Linked DNA regions of Homo sapiens: region 1 is linked to region 2. A link means that fine-mapping ties the variant in region 2 to the expression of a gene that starts in the linked region. Tissue or cell type: whole blood. Region 2 holds a variant in brackets; the other region holds the start of a gene. All regions are shown on one strand. Distances are between the middles of the regions.

Region 1 (8,102 bases), 110 kb after region 2:
TGAAAGTAGCCCTGTAGCAATGATCCTGACTGATGAACGTTTGACCACAGTCCAAGGGCATTGGCAGGACTAAACCCAAAAAAGACGTTCTCAATTTACATTCCACTAAGGCTTGGAACACCAAGTATTCATGAATTTAAGGCAAAGATCGTACTAACTAAAAATAATATCCCAAATGCTAAAATTTACATGAAAAACATAACCAGTTTTTGACGGGTAGTTTATCGCAGTTATCCTGACACAATGAGTATGCAAATTCCATTCAAAAACTGTGCATCAGGTATTGAAGTTGCTGTACATTAGAGATAGCATATTTGGGTTGGGCGCAGTGGCTCACGCCCGTAATCCCAGAACTTCAGGAGGCCAAGGTGGGGGGATCACTTGAGCCCAGGAGTTTGAGACCAGCCTGGGTGACAAAAATTAGCTGGGCGTGATGGCATGCACCGGTAGTCCCAGCTACTTGGGAGGCTGAGGTGGGAGAATTGCTCGAGCCTGGGATGTGAAGCCGTGATCGAGCCACTGCATTCCAGCCTGGGCAACAGAGAGGACTGTCTCAAAAAAATAACAATAAACAAAATAAAGGAAATACGTTTGTAGAAAGCAGAATTAACTTTAAAAAAAACTTAAAAAATCTCCAGGGGGCCAGGCATGATGGCTCACACCTGTAATCCCAGCACTTTGGGAGCCAAGACAGGTAGATCACTTAAGTCCAGGAGTTCAAGACCAGCCTGGGAAACATGGCAGAACCCTGTCTCTACAAAAAGCACAAAAATTAGCCAGGCATGCCTGTAGTCCCAGCTACTTGGGAGCTACTTAGGAAGCTGAAGCAGGAGAATCATTTCAGCCTGGGATGCGGTGGTTGCAGTCAGCCAAGATCGTGCCATTGCACTCCAGCCTAAGCAACAGAGCAAGACCCTGTATCAAAGAAAGAATACACACACACACACACACACACATATACATATACACCTCCAGGTAAAAAAGGACCTCTGTTTTACTTGAGGGTAGCTAATATTTAAGGACACATAAATTATTTCCACACTAGCCTAGCACCTCCAGTCGAAAGATAAAGCCTGATGATAAACATTAGGACCTTATGTACACAGGGAAATAATAATAATATGAGGTGGATGGGATAGGGAAGAGAGCATGAAGCAAGGTTTCTGCTTAGATCACTTCATCACGCAGCAACGTGGCTCCCAAGGGCTAGAAGAGAAACACTACCATCAGGTCTAGGCTTTTATACAATTTCACCTTAGGCCCCAACCTATCAAGCCACACTAGCACTTACCATTAAAAAAAAAAAAAAAAATTAACCCATAAAGGCTATTTAACTTGCCAAGGCTATACTCTTTAGTTATTTTTAGGAAATCTTCAATCTCAACAATAAGACTCTTGAATTTGAAATGTCTCTAATCTGAATGTTACCTTTGACATTGTTGGCAGAAATCCTACAAACATCTGCCATCTAAAATAGGTTAAGAAAGGGCAATAGAAGCTTTGAAACATACCCAAGTATAAAGCAGAATTTAGTTTATAATAAAAATATTTCAAAACAGTGGAATAATCAAATAATCATCTGATAAGTAATTCTGGACAAGTCTCTAAATATTTAGAAGAAACTATAATTAGGGCTCTAGCTCTCATATAACGAAGTAAAATACTGGGTGAATTCAGGGTAATATGTGAAAAAATTAAGAAAAAAATACTAAGAGGAAGCAGAGACTAACATATATAATAATTTGGAGGAATAAGGAAGATATAAAAATTATAACAGAGTTAGAAAATGTAAAAGAAACGGAAAGACCTATCTACCTAAAACACACATGCACACACACTTTTCTCCATGTCAAATATATGTACAAAGTTAAAAGACAAAAAACAGACTGGGGAAAAGAATGCTACATGTGACAGAAAACAACCTTTATATCAGAAAGATGAATTCAGCAACAGATTGCAGCACAGGCAAAGGATTATGAGTATGTAATTTACATCTAAATGTAACTAGCATATAAACATATTTTAAAAGTGCTCAATGTAACTTTAAAGGAATGAAAATAGAAACAGAAAACAGTGAAATGCCTGCTACTTAGTGTTTGTAAGGCAAAATGGGGCCATCATACAATGTTACCAGGACTGTGAATATACATAACATTTCCATGGGGCCAATATGTATCAAAGTTTAAAATGTGCACCACTTCTGGCCCAATAATTCCTCTTTCGGAAATATAAATGAGATCATTTCTCAAAGATGTATGCATATAAATTCATCACAGTGTTCTTTGTAATCTAGATAAATTGGAAACAACCTAAACATCCATCAGTAATAATAAATAAATCTTGGTACCTGGTAAACTAAAATATCATGCATCTATTACAAATGATGTAGAGATCATACAGATATTGACATGCAAAAAACGGTCAAGACATTTTACAGGACAGTTCCATGTGAACAGGGGCCTTGTATGTTTGTTCTTCACTCTTCCAGCAACTAGAACAGTGCCTTGCACAAAACGGCTTTTCAATAAACATTTATTAAACAGATGAACTTTAAAGCAGGTTACAGAACAATAATCATAATATAGTCCTTTTCTCTCTTCCCTCTTCCCCTCCCTCCTTCTCTCTCTCTCACACACACACACAGATTGGAAGGATAGTCACAAAAGGTTAACAAGGTAATGTAGTTTTGGTGTGTGCATATTTTAATTTTCTCCATCTCTCTCTATTGCATAAATTCCTTACACAGTAAGCATTTTTTATTTTTATGACGGTAAAAAGTAACAATTTTTTTAAAGAAAAAGAACTCACATATTTTAAATGAACTCCAGAATGTGCTGTGACTAAGCTCACCAACTCCAAAAACTAAAGTCAACAATATCCAAGTGGCATGTTTTCTTTCACTTTCAAAGAAATATCAGTATAACCTGTACCAGCATCATCTTTCTCAGTACCAGGAAATGCCACACTATACTAATAAAATACAGTGTTTCCAAAAGCAAAGGCACACTTTTTCCGCAGTAAAAAGGAAAAAAAAAAAACCAAAAAACTAAAAGTAACTAATTTCTTAAAGTCTCTTCCACTAACATACACTCTATTCTAGTTCATGGTAACGATTACTATATACAATTGCTCTTTTCTCCCCCCAGACTAAAAATCCAAGTGAATCGATATCAGTAATGTGCTCTATATAATTTTTTCATTTCTTTACAGAGGCAGATTTCACCTTAAACAGTGGATATACCAAACTAGCCACATAACCCATGTCTCTATTCACGCCATCACCCAGTTCTATTTTACTTACACGCTTCGTCACAATCTCATAACCTTATTTAGATTTTATCTGCTCCTTCCTTCTAGAATGTAAGACTCATGAGGACAGGAATTCTGTCCTGCTCACCACCATGTCCCCTGGCCAATAACAGTGAATGGTATCTAGTAGGCCTCAAGAAGTATTTGTTAAACAAAAATGAAAAGATGTGGCCGGCACGGGGAGAGTACAAATCTACATAAAACAATAAAACGAGGAACTGAAAAAAGGAAAGAAAACCACGCTGAGATGTACAAGCTGACAGGACTCAAAGCTATCATGCCAGCTCGGAGGTTTGGTGGACATTTTTCAGGGTGGACAGGTGCTTCACACCTATCTAAGCGCATAGAGCCCTTCCAGGAAGAAGAAAATCCACAGAGAGGTGTCCAGATAGCTGTGAGCAGCTCCCAGAAAAGTGGACACAATCACCACCCTAACAGAAACGTGGCCCAGGTCGGGAGAAAAAAACAATACACCATACATCTCGGCCCAGATGAAAAATTACACGAATCCCCAGCACAATCAAACCAAGCCACCACCTTCAGCCTGACACGTAAGAGCAGTCTCCTTTAGCCTGGCTGGGCAGTCGCCTGCAACCCAGCAAACCCTTCCCACGCCCAACACTTTTCCCTCGCAAAGACCACCGCCACCGCCGGTCCGAGGGGCGAGGGAACGGGGGGAACAGCCTGACGATCAGCTTTCTCCACCCCCGCCCGAGCCCAGTCCCCTTCAAAGCGCAAACGTTTCCCATTCTCGCCTGTCTCCGAGGCCCGGACCCCTGCCCCGAGCCCCTCCTGCGGTCCCTCACTCACGTGTAGATGATAGCCATGAAATGCATCAGCCACAGCACCAAGAAGAGGACGAACCCGAAGACGGCCATTCCCTCCAAGGCCAGGTCCAGCAGCGCCATCCCCCGGCCCGCCGGACCGGCCCGGCCCGCTGCGGCCGCCAACACGGACAACGCTCCCGCAGGAGGAGGACAGGGTGGGCGCCCGGTGCGGGGGCGCGGGAGGCGAGAGGAAGGTGGGGAGAGGAAAGGGCGGAGGGGGGTGGGGACGGAAGGGGCGGGCAGGGCCTGCGCGCCCCCGCCCGCGCGCTCTCGCCTGCGCGCTGTCTTCGGCGCGCTCGCGGGCGGCTGCGGGTGCTGCGGTCTCCCGGCTCTGGTCGGGGCGACCGCGGTCCCGCGCTCCGGTTCGCCTCTCCCGAGCCTCGCGGCCGCCCACCAGACCCTGCGCGCGGGCACCTCCGCCGCCTCTCCGTCTCGCCGCCGGGCTCCCGGCCGAGCAGCTCCACCGCCGCAGCTCCGCGCACTAATCAAAACCGGCGGCTCGCGCCCCACTCCTCGGCGCGTCCCGCCCCCGGAACCGCGGCGCCCGCCTCTCCCAGGGGCGGTGCCCCCATCGGTCCACGCCCACCCTGTCGCCCGCGCGCCCGCTGCGGCGCCGGCGAGAGCGCGCCGGGGAGATCGTGTCCTGCTGCCCGCAGGACGCAGGCCGGGCTTCCTCCGGCTCCTCGCTCCCGCTGCCGCCCACCTAGGCGGAAAGCGCTGCAGCCCTGGGCCGGGCTCCCTCGGTGTCGGTGGCAGCTCGGGACCCTGTGCCTGGCTGGAGGCTGCTCTCTCTCCGTCTGGCCCTGCTGTTCCTGGGTGCCCCAGAAAAAGACACGGGTTCCGGGCAGCTGCCGGAGCTTGTCTAGAAATCCAACTTCCAACGCCGCGTCTGCAGCCTCCCCGCCGGGCACTGCTACTGCTCGGAGCAGCCAGGCCCTCCAGGCCACGTTCCTGGGCGCAAGGGATGCCCATTGCCTTCCCTCTTACTGCTTTTAATGCTGTGGGATCTTGGATCAAAAGGGACCGGAGAGTAAAATAATCTCCATGCGCCTCACAGATCTCTAAGCGCCTTAGCGACCGTGTGTATTATAAAAAGAAATTCTCAAATTCAGAATTAAAGAATCAGTTGATATTGAAATTCCCTAAGACTGCCATCCAATACGGTAGCCGCATGTGGCTAAGTGAGGGTTGGAAAGGCAGCTTGCCACTCTGTGGAGTAAACAGTACACCAGATGTGGAAGACCATCTCGTTAGTAAATTTTATATTGATTGCATGTTGAAAAGGTAATATTTTGGACATACTACATTAAATTAGGTAAATTATTAAGTTAATTTCTCTTTTTAAATACTTTGGCTAGCTACTAGAAAATTTTAATTGTACGTGTGGACAGCACAGCTCTAAAATGGGAAGAAATGTCACTTTGGGTAGTAAGGTAACTAAGTATTTGTCCTAATTTTAAGTCATCCCAAGAAGATGCTAGTACTCAATGTTTGTGTTTCTTCAATCTAGATGAGTTTATACTATTTCTGCATTGTTTTATGTTTATTGTTGCAAGTGATTTCCTTTTAAATAATCCATGACCTCCCTTGAGATATTTCAGAATTGAATTCAATTTTGAAAAGAAGTTGTGGCTGGGCGCGGTGGCTCACACCTGTAGTCCCAGCACTTTGGGAGGCGGAGGCAGGTGGAGCATGAGGTCAGGAGTTCAAGACCGGCCTGGCCTAGATGGTGAAACCCCGTCTCTACTAAAAATACAAAGAATTAGCCGGGCGTGGTGGCAGGCGCCTGTAATCCCAGCTACTCCGGAGGCTGAGGCAGAGAATTGCTTAAACCTGGAGGGGCGGAGGTTGCAGTGAGCCGAGATCGCGCCACTGCACTCCAGCCTGGGCGACAGAGCGAGACTCTGTCTCGAAAAAAAATAGATGAATTTAAAAAAAAGAAAAGAAGTTGTTTATTATTGCTGTTTATGGTAGTTAATAGTCACTGAATGATCTACCTCAATCTGCAATTAAATGACAAACTACAACTAGAAGAGTTAATGTCCGAACCATTCCTCGATTAACATCCTTGGCTCCACTGGTGCAGAATCAGTGGGAAAGAACAATGCTTCAAAATCAAATTCCCACTGTTGAGAGTTACTGGCTGATAAAAATAGCAGGATGGAGGGCCAGGCGCAGTGGCTCATGCCTGTAATCCCAGCAGTTTGGGAGACTCAGGTAGGAGGATTGCTTGAGGCCAGGAGTTTGAGACCAGCCTGGGCAACATGATGAAACCCTGTCTCTACAAAAAAAAAAAAAAAAAAAAATTAGCCAGGCATGGTTATGGCACCTATAGTCCCAGCTACCGGGAAGGCTGAGGTGGTAGGATCACCTGATCCTGGGAAGTGGCGGCTGCAGTGAGCTGTGATCGCGCCACTTAACTCCAGCCTGGGTGACAGTGAGTCCCTGTCTTAAAAAAAAGTGGAATAGAATTCTAACATCGAAATAACGTTCCAAACAAAAATTTACGATTGTAGTTAATTCTAAGGCACACTTCAAAAAAACACTTTAACAAATTTTAATTTCTCTGAAATGGGAATGCATCTCACAGTCAATGCCATCTTAGAGTTAATTGGCGTTTTTTCTTTTTTTTTTTTTTTTTTTTGAGGTGGAGTCTCGCTCTGTCGCCAAGGCTGGAGTGCAGTGGCGTGATCTAGGCTCACAGGAACCTCCGCCTCCTGAGTTCAAGCAATTCTCCTGTCTCACCCTCCCCAGTAGCTGGGACTACATTTGCACACCACCACACCCGGCTAATTTTTGTGTTTTTAGTAGAGACGGGGTTTCACCATATTGTTCAGGCTAGTCTCGAACTCCTGACCTCGTGATCCACCTGCCTCGGCCTCCCAAAGTGCTGGGATTACAGGCGTGAGTCACCGTGCCCAGCCAATGGCTTGTGGTTTTCTTTTACTCAAATATAAAATAATAGTGCATCTTAGTGATATATAAAATAATGCTGCATCTTATCATTAAATGCCCTCTTAGATTTGAGGAACACCAATTGCTTAATTTAAGCATTGTTTTATATTCTGCATTTTTTCAAAAATGTTTTCTGGAACCTTACAACAAAGGATTTTATACAGTATGACCAATAACACAAAAAAAGAGGCCAAAGAAATGTGAAAGTAGATATTCTTAAGAGTTAACAAATTTGCTAAATTGAGTATAATCAGTAGATTAAAGATCAGTTATATTATACTTGACCCTAGTTAAACTATGTTTACCCAAACTTCGTTTTAAAACAGCTTTAGAAAAGGGAAGAGTATGAAGACAGTATAAAGATCTGTGGTTGCCATGGAGCAGAGGAAAGAGGGACAAATAGATGACAGGATTTTTAGGGCTGTGAGTGAAACTATTCTGTATGATCCTATAATAGTGTATACATGTCATATATTTGGCAAACCCCGTAGAAAATACACCACCAAGAGTGAACCCTAATGTAAGCTATGGACTTTAGGTGATAATGGTGTGTTAATGTAGGTCCATCAGTTGTAACGAATATGGTGCTCTGGTGCAAGATGTTAATAGTGGAGGAGGCTGGTGGAGGGAATGGCAGTGGGTATATGGGAACCTTCTGTACTTTCTGCTCAGTTTTGCTGTGAACCTAAAACTACTCTAAAAAGTAAATTCTTAAAAAAAATTAGTGAGTGTTCCACTAAAGGTGTTCTACTTATATATGTATACAAATATGTGTATAACATTGGAAATGCTATAAATGTCTGAATAAGATATACCAGTTTGCGGCTGGGCGCGGTGGCTCAGGCCTGTAATTGCAGCACTGTGGGAGGCCAAGGTGGGAGGATCTCAAGCCAGCCTGGGCAACATGGCGAAACCCTGTTTCTACAAAAAATAGAAAAATTAGCTGGGCGTGGTGGCAGGCAACGTGGTAAAACCCTGTTTCTACAAAAAATACAAAATCTAGCCAGGCAT
Region 2 (8,107 bases):
CTTGTGAGTTTCTGAGTTCAGGGACTGAATCTCAGGTAGGTGAGCCATACTGGACAAGAATCAGCACGACCCGGGTTCGAACTCTGGTTCTTCCACTGGCTGTATGACCACTGCCGATCATTAACATTTTCAAGCCTTCATTTCCTCATCTGCAAAATTCCAGCAACAACCCCTATGCCTCCAGAAGTGTGAGAATTAAATGAGATAGTGCCTGAAAGTGCATTTTAGGACCACCTCTGTCTCCTTTGCGGTCCAACGCAGGAGGCATACAAAATTGCTGACGCTCCTGTCTGTGGCTACCACACTGCGGGCAAGATAAGGCCTAGCTTTGGAAAAAACACTTTGCACCACGCATTTTCCCCTTCTTTGGAGGGTTGTAACTAGTCCTGAGAATTAATACCATTCTCTCACCCTCCCACTGTGCCTCTAACAAACACAGCATAATCTCATGATCATAGCTGTGATGGGAATACCCAAGAGAACAGCGGGGGGAGAGTCTGAATGGGATCAGATGTCAGAGTGGGGGGCGGCCTGGAGAGGCCCCAAGGCCAGGAAGAGGAGCAGAGCTGACCGATGCTTCCACTGATGCTGCAAGCTGATGCACACTCGGAGCCCCCAACCCTTTTGGAGTACACTGGTATCTGCCACCCAGCCACCAGTGCCATGGCTGATAATGTGACTTTGCGTGAGATGTGACAGTTGCCTCTCTGCTCCTGCTTGGCCCTGGCTTTTGTGTAATCTCATTGGAAAGAGAGCCGATTATCCTTGAGAGGCCAAACAAATCTCAGGATGTACATCCTGCAGAGACAGGCTAATTTCACAACCCTCCAAGTTTATTTATTTTTTTTAAAAAAAGGAGATATTATTTGTACTTCTTCCCGTGAAATGTGCTCTGTGCAGTTACTTTGATTACCTCCTTCAACCACTTAGCTGCTTCACCTCTCTGAACCAGCTCCTTCGGAGGGATGTCGCCTCCATCGGATGGGGCAGGATCAGAGGCTGGGAGTCAGAAATCTTGTTTTCTGGCTTTGCCCTAATCCTGCTTTTATACTCTTTTCTGTTCCTTTTCCACAATGAAAGACTGAAATAGAGGCATTGTCCACCTCTAAGATTGCTGTGAGGAAGTCCCTGGGGAGGTACGTTGACAGGAGCCAGGCTGACCTTGTACCAATTCCTCGTCTAAGACACTTACAGGAAGTCGTTCTGGCGTGAGAAGAGGCTACTTTGGGGAAGAGGCTGAGTTCACCCTGGAGCCCCAGCCTGCACCTTGCACTGCCATTTTCTTCTCCATCGCAGTCTCTGCCAAGAGTCTCCGCCAAGAGTCTCCCTGCTTCCAGGCATGTTTGACAGACTGTGTGCCGGTGGAATCATCCCGTGAGGCCTTCATGGCTGGGGCAGGTCCCCCTTTAAAGGATCTTTGTAGTGGATCCATCCTCAGCGTTCTGAGGCACAATAGGTGGTTATCCTCCCTCCTGCACCTGCAATCTCTCCTCCAAGAGAGCATTTTTATCAACATGAAAACATGCTCTCTGCTTCCAGGTCCAAAAACAAACACATAAAAACCCAGAATAGGCTGAGTGCAGTGGCTCATGCCTGTAATCCCAGCACTTTGGGAAGCTGAGGCGGGAGAATTGCTTGAGCCCAGGAGTTAAAGACCACCCTGGGCAACTTGGCGAAACCCCGTCTCTACAGAAATACAAAAACATTAGCTGTGTGTGGTGGTGCGTGCCTGGGGTCCCAGCTACTCGGGAGGCTGAGGTGAGAGGATCACTTGATCCTGGAGAGGTTGAAGCTGCAGTGAGCTATGATTGTGCCCCTGCACTCCAGCCTGGGCAACAGAGTGAGACCCTTTCTAAAAACGACATAAAACGAAAAAAAACTCAAATAACCCGCCTTAGAGCCCATGTTCCTCTTTTTTTTTTTTTTTTTTTTTTTTTTTGAGACAGAGTCTCACTCATCACCCAGGCTGGAGTGCAGTGGCGTGATCTCTGCTCACTGCAACCTCTGCCCCCCAGGTTCAAGCGATTCTCCTGTCTCAGCCTCCAGAGTAGCTGGGATTACAGCTGCCCACCATCACCCTAGCTAATTTTTGTATTTTTAGTAGAGACAGGGTTTCACCATGTTGGCCAGGCTGGTCTCGAACTCCTGACCTCAGGTGATCCGCCTGCCTTGGCCCCTGAAAGTGCTGGGATTACAGGTGTGAGCCACCATGCCCAGTGAATGCTCCTCTTTGGATGCGACTCATTTTCTCTATTCTCCTTTTCAGCCAAACTTCTTGAGAGTGTCAGTTACCCTGACTGCCTCCACCCCACCCACTCTGCCTCCTATTCCACCTGCAACCCATAGCAGTGTGGTTTCTAGCTGAGGCTTCTTGCCATCAAAACTTCTCTCCTGAAGCTTGCTTTCTTGCAGTTCTCACCTTATTTGATCACTGTTGATTCCTCTCTTGTTTTTTTCAGTCTGCTTTCCTTTGGGCCCCATGACATCTCACAATCCTGGGTTTTTCTCTTACTTCTCTGGCCACTTTTTCTTAGTCTCTAATTCCTTGGCTTTATATGCCATCAGAGAGCACACTTCTTACAACAGAATGGCTCTTCGCAGTGTGGGAGCAGTTGGCTCTGATGTGTAAGGCCAGGTTGGGTCAGGATAAGCCCAGGGAAGAGGAAAACTGGGTTTTCAGCCCATGGGAATCACTGAAGAAGCAGCTCAACCAACCCTCTTTTCTCATCTGAGAAAGCCACTCATTGGGGGCTGTCGAAGGGGGATAGACTGTGACGGGGTCTGTGAACTGGGGATCCTTGATTGGCCCAGGGCCCCCCCAAGTGGGGATCTCTCAGTCAGATGGGTTAGCTTTGGCTCTCAAAATACATTATTTGCCCAGGAGTGGTGGTGCATACCTGTAGTCTCAGCTACTCGAAAGGCTGAGGCAGGAGGATTGCTTGAGCCCAGGAATTTCTGGGCTATCGTGTACTACGAGTGCACCCATGGACCACTGCACTGCAGCCTGGGCAACATAGTAAGACCTCACCTCTTAAAAAAATGATCTGAATGATTCCATTTATGTGAAATATCGAGAATAGGCAAATCATAGAGATAGAAAGCAAATCAGTGGTTTCCAAGTTCTGGAAGAGAGAGTGGGAAATGACTGCTTAATGGGTATGAAGTTTCCTTTCAAGGTAATGAAGATTTCTGCAATGAAATAGTAGTGATGGTTATACAGCATTGTGAATGTACCAGGTGTTAACTAATGTCTAAAAAAAAAAATCATGACCAGGTGTGGTGGCTCATATCTGTAATCCCAGCACTTTGGGCGGCTGAGGTGGGTGGATCTCCTGATGTCAGGGGTTTGAAACGAGCCTGGTCAATATGGCAAAACCCCGTCTCTACTAAAACTACAAAATTAGCTGGGCGTGGTGGTGCATGCCTGTAATCCCAGCTATTTGGGAGGCTGAGGCAGGTGAATGGCTTGAACCTGGGAGGTGGAGGTTGCAGTGAGCCAAAATTGCGCCATTGCACTCCAGCCTGGGCAAAAAGATTGAAACTCCGTCTCAAAAAAAAAAAAAAAAAAATCATCTGGGGTTTACCCCTGAAGAGGAACCACCACTGCTGAATTAAGTCACCTAGACCAGCGATGCACTCAAGGTCAACCATGATGAGGAGATAAGGAACTCTAACCTGGAAATGACTCTTCCCACCAAAACAATTGGAAACCACACTTTCCCATAATACAGAATGTGCTATTCCATAAGATAGCCGTAAGAGGACTTCTAAATTATATTAATTAACAGTGAACTGTGTGGTGTGACCATAGAATACACGCTTACAGTTGCTTTTTGTTTTTGTTTTTGAGACATAATCTCGCTCTGTTGCCCAGGCTGGAGTGCAGTGGTGCAATCCTGGCTCACTGCAACCTCAGCTTCTTAGGTTCAAGCGATTCTCCTGCCTCAGCCTCCTGAGTAGCTGGGATTACAAGCATGCGTCACCACGTCCAGCTAATTTTTGTATTTTTAGTAGAGATATGGTTTCACCATGTGGGCCAGGCTGGTCTGGAACTCCTGACCTCACGTGATCCACTTGCCTCAGCCTCCCAAAGTGCTAGGATTACAGGCGTGAGTCACCACGCCCGGCCAGTTGTTTTATAAACTATTTTTTCTTTCAAACTGGTATTTATGTGACTATGATGAGGTCAGATTTAACGTTTTGGTGGAGCGTTCTGATAGCCTGAACTGAGGCTGAGGAAGAAAGCTAATTTGAAATATCTAAGGCCTTGAACTGTCAGGACTCTGTAACCTTTTGGAGAAGTCTAGAATTACCCTTGACAAGTGAGGTGAGTGAACACTGCACTGTGCGAGTCCTTAACAGATGTTGTCTCATTGTATTTCTCACAGCAACCCTATGAGGGGACACAGGACAGCTGGGATCTGAACTAAGTATTTATGAGTCTGTGAGCCTACGTGAGTCCATCAACCAGAACTGGCCAGGAGAAGAAGCTGCTGGTGCCCTAGGGGTTCTGCTTGTGGATGCGAGCGCATTCATGATGGCATTTATCTTACTGGGCCTCCAGTCTGGTGTGGCTGCAGGAGACGTGAGCTACATGCTCAGCCTGTCTGGAACCTTGACGTTTTTCTGTCTCGC[G/A]GATGAACAAAACTTCTAGAGTTTGCTTACTTGTCAATTTCCCCCTCACTTCATTTCCTGACTTGTAAACAGGCAGGATGAGAGCAGGTGACTGGCACTTATGATAACCCAAGAGCTCTGCTGTGCTCAGCATATCCTGTTATTATAGGCCTCCAGTCTGCTTTGATATCTACCGTCCAATTTTCCCTCCTTTTCCCGGAACTGTAGTTAGGGGAGGGATTGGATTTATGGGGATAAAAATTTAAATTTTCCAGCCTGGGCAACATGATGAAACCTCATCTGTACAAAAAATACAAAAATTAGCTGGGTGTGGTGGAGCATGCCTGTAGTCCCAGCTACTTGGGAGGCTGAGGTATGACGATTTCTTGAGCCTGGGAGGCCGAGGCTGCAGTTAAGCCATGATCATGCTACTACATTCCAGCCTGGGCAATAGAGTGAGACTCTGTCTCAGAAAAGAATTCAACTTTTCACTGTGGGAGTCAGTGTGGTGTAATTCATGAGTCTTGGAACTGGCACTGGATTTAAATTCTAGTTTTAACAGGAAACTGAATTTCCCATCCTTACCTGGACGGAAAAATATTGAACTCAGGCCAGGCATGGTAGCTCACACCTGTAATCCCAGCGCTTTTGGAGGCTGAGGTGGGTGGATCACCTAAGGTCAGGAGTTCAAGACCAGCCTAGTCAGCATGGTGAAACCAAGTCTCTACTAAAACTACAAAAATTCGCCGGGCGTGGTGGTGTGGGCTTGTAGTCCTAGCTACTTGGGAGGCTGAGGCAGGAGAATCCCTTGAACCAGGGAGGCAGAGGTTGCAGTGAGCCGAGATCATGCCACTGCACTCCAGCCTGGGTGACAAAGCGAGACTCCGTCTCAAAAAAAAAAATATATATATATGTATACACACACACACACACACACACACACACACACACGCATATATCTCAGAGTAATTCATGAGGCCTAAATAAAATAATTGGAAAAGACTCAATATATGATGGTGCTCATGGTGAACAGGATGGGATAAATGTAGTAACTTATTAAGAATATGGGGTTCAGTCTGGGCGCGGTGGCTCATGCCTGTAATCTCAGCACTTTGGGAGGCCGAGGCAGGCGGATCACTTGAGGTCAGGGGTTTGAGACCAGCCTGGCCAACAAGATGAAACCCCATCTCTAGTAAAAATACAAAAATGAGCTGGGCGTGGTGGCGGGCGCCTGTAATCCCAGCTACTTGGGAGGCTGAGGCAGACAATCGCTTGAACCTGGAAGGTGGAGGTTGCAGTGAGCTAAGATCATGCCACTGCCCTCCAGCCTGGGTGACAGAGCAAGACTCTGGATCAAAAAAAAAAAAAGTGGGGTTCAGGTGGAAATAGGGGGAGGCAGGGCCCTGCTTCTTCCTCCTTGAGTGAAGCAGGACGGTTTCAGGACTCCGCCTTTCTTCTTCTCTCTTCCAGAGTTCGCTCCTGGCCCAGCACCTTCAACCCAGCCCCTTACTTTATAGGCTTTGCCCCTTCTCCTGCACCAAGGCCGAGGGTTGGCATGGCTTGCTGTAAGTGTGTGGGGCCTAAAATTGGGAAAAATAATAAAATATGTGGTTTGTTCTTGGTGCAACTAATGTACTGAATTTAGTCCTTTCTCTCCTTAGGGTAAGCTTTCCCTCGAAGTACCCTGATCTCTCCTTTCCATAGTCCCCTCCACACACACACACCCATTCCCAACCCTCAGCTTCCAGAAAGTGTGTGAATCAGGCCAGCTCCCTCCAGCGGTAGCCTCAGTCCCACCACAGCATGCTCTCAGTTGCTCAAGAAATGACCAGTGGAGCGGGTATCAGTAGAGAGAGTCAACAGATAATTCCTTGCTTCACTTATTAACCAGAATAAAGAAATCAGCTTGGTACTTGGATTACAGTATTTCTCAATTTCCTTCTATATTTCCTTCTGTATCAGCCATTTGAATGATACCACCCAGAATAATAGGCCAAGTGAAATGGCTCATGCCTGTAATCCCAGCACTTTGGGAGGCCAAGGTGGGTGGATTCCCTGAGGTCGGGAGATCGAGACCGGCCTGGACAGCATGGCAAAACCTCATCTTTACTATAAATACAAAAATTAGCCCGGCGTGGTAGTGCACGCCTGTAATCCCTGCTACTGGGGAGGCTGAGGTATGAGAATTGCTTGAACCCGGGAGGCAGAGGTTGCAATGAGCCGAGATCGTGTCACTGCACTGCAGCCTGGGCAACAGAGTGAGATTGTCTCAAAAAAAAAAGAAGAAGAATATCAGCTAGCATATATTAAACATACACTGTGTTTTTAGAACTGTTCTAGGATATTTAGGGTGTTAACTGTATTAACTCAATTAGCAACAACTCCGTGAATTTGAGACAATTATTTCTCTATCTTACAAATAAAGAAACAGAGGCACCGAAAGGTCAAATCACTCATTCAAGGTCATACAACTGGTTAGTGGTAAACCGAGAATCAAACCCAGGGTGTTTAACTCTACCTCCTGGGCTTTTAACATTGCATTAGGGCAGAATAGAGTATAGGAAAAGACTTTCAGTCAAGTGTTAGGGTCTGAATTTTGGGTCATAACTCAAAGGTCAATAGCTACTGGGATGTAATCAACATATTGTTATTTGCATATATCTATAATCAGAGCTTGTGAGTCATGCTATACATTAGTGAGGCCAACTTTGGAAAATATAATTTGCTCCAACATATTTGAAGATGTTACAAAAATTAGGACCTTTATATAAGATTTTAAAATATGTTCTACCAATAAAAAGAGAGTAAAATTTACTCACAAAATTTCCTTCTTATCTGGGTTCCACTTATACCTTCCAAGCATCACCTATCTCGAGCAGGTGGCTCCAAAGCCATAGTTCTCATATACAGAGAAATTAAAAAGACCATATAAGTAATTTCTGCTTTCAAACTTACATACTCTCTACATTAAAAAATGTATTTCAATCCCTTACCTGATACTTAAAAACTTAGAGAAGGGGAAAATTAGCTTCAATCTTAAGATTTAGAGAGGCCAAACCTTTCTGGGTATCCCATCTTCGGGTGGGTAGCAGTAATGAGGGAGCATGACTGTATACTTGTCCCCGTACACTCCCAGCATCTGCTGGGTCGGGCCTGTGCTCTCTGAATATTTGGTAACATGGCAGCTCCTATCTTCCAGCTACTGCCCTCTGAAAGCCTGCCAAGAGCATTCCTGGTGACATCTTGTGCAACCTACAAACTCTTCTTATAGCACAGGCTCTGCTATGACATGGACCAGAGCAAAGGTAGACACTGCAAAATTATTTCTTCCCAGTGAGGCAAGTATGATTGAGCACATATCCTTGCTCTGTTTACTGGAGAAACAGACTGATCAACTGGCATGAAATATTGAAACATGAAACTTACACTACCATTAGAAAAAAATCAGTCCTAACTGCAAAGATCGTGAAAATGAATTTGAAAGCATAGTGCA

The links. PIP is the estimated chance that this variant, and not a neighbour inherited with it, causes the effect.
Region 1: it holds the start of UGCG, and the variant in region 2 is fine-mapped to the expression of UGCG in whole blood (INTERVAL, PIP 0.91).

Annotation. Positions count from the first base shown.
Region 1 is chr9:111,893,331-111,901,432 of GRCh38, reverse strand. It overlaps UGCG (UDP-glucose ceramide glucosyltransferase), which reads right to left and starts at 4,619. Exons shown (of 9, transcript NM_003358.3): 1 at 4,120-4,619. The coding sequence starts at 4,217. RefSeq lists silencers at 4,175-4,264, 4,375-4,964 and an enhancer at 4,585-5,168.
Region 2 is chr9:111,999,244-112,007,350 of GRCh38, reverse strand. No RefSeq gene overlaps it. Among named protein-coding and RNA genes, the nearest start is that of LINC02977, 37 kb to the left of the region's middle. The variant G/A (reference allele first, on the strand shown) is at 4,636.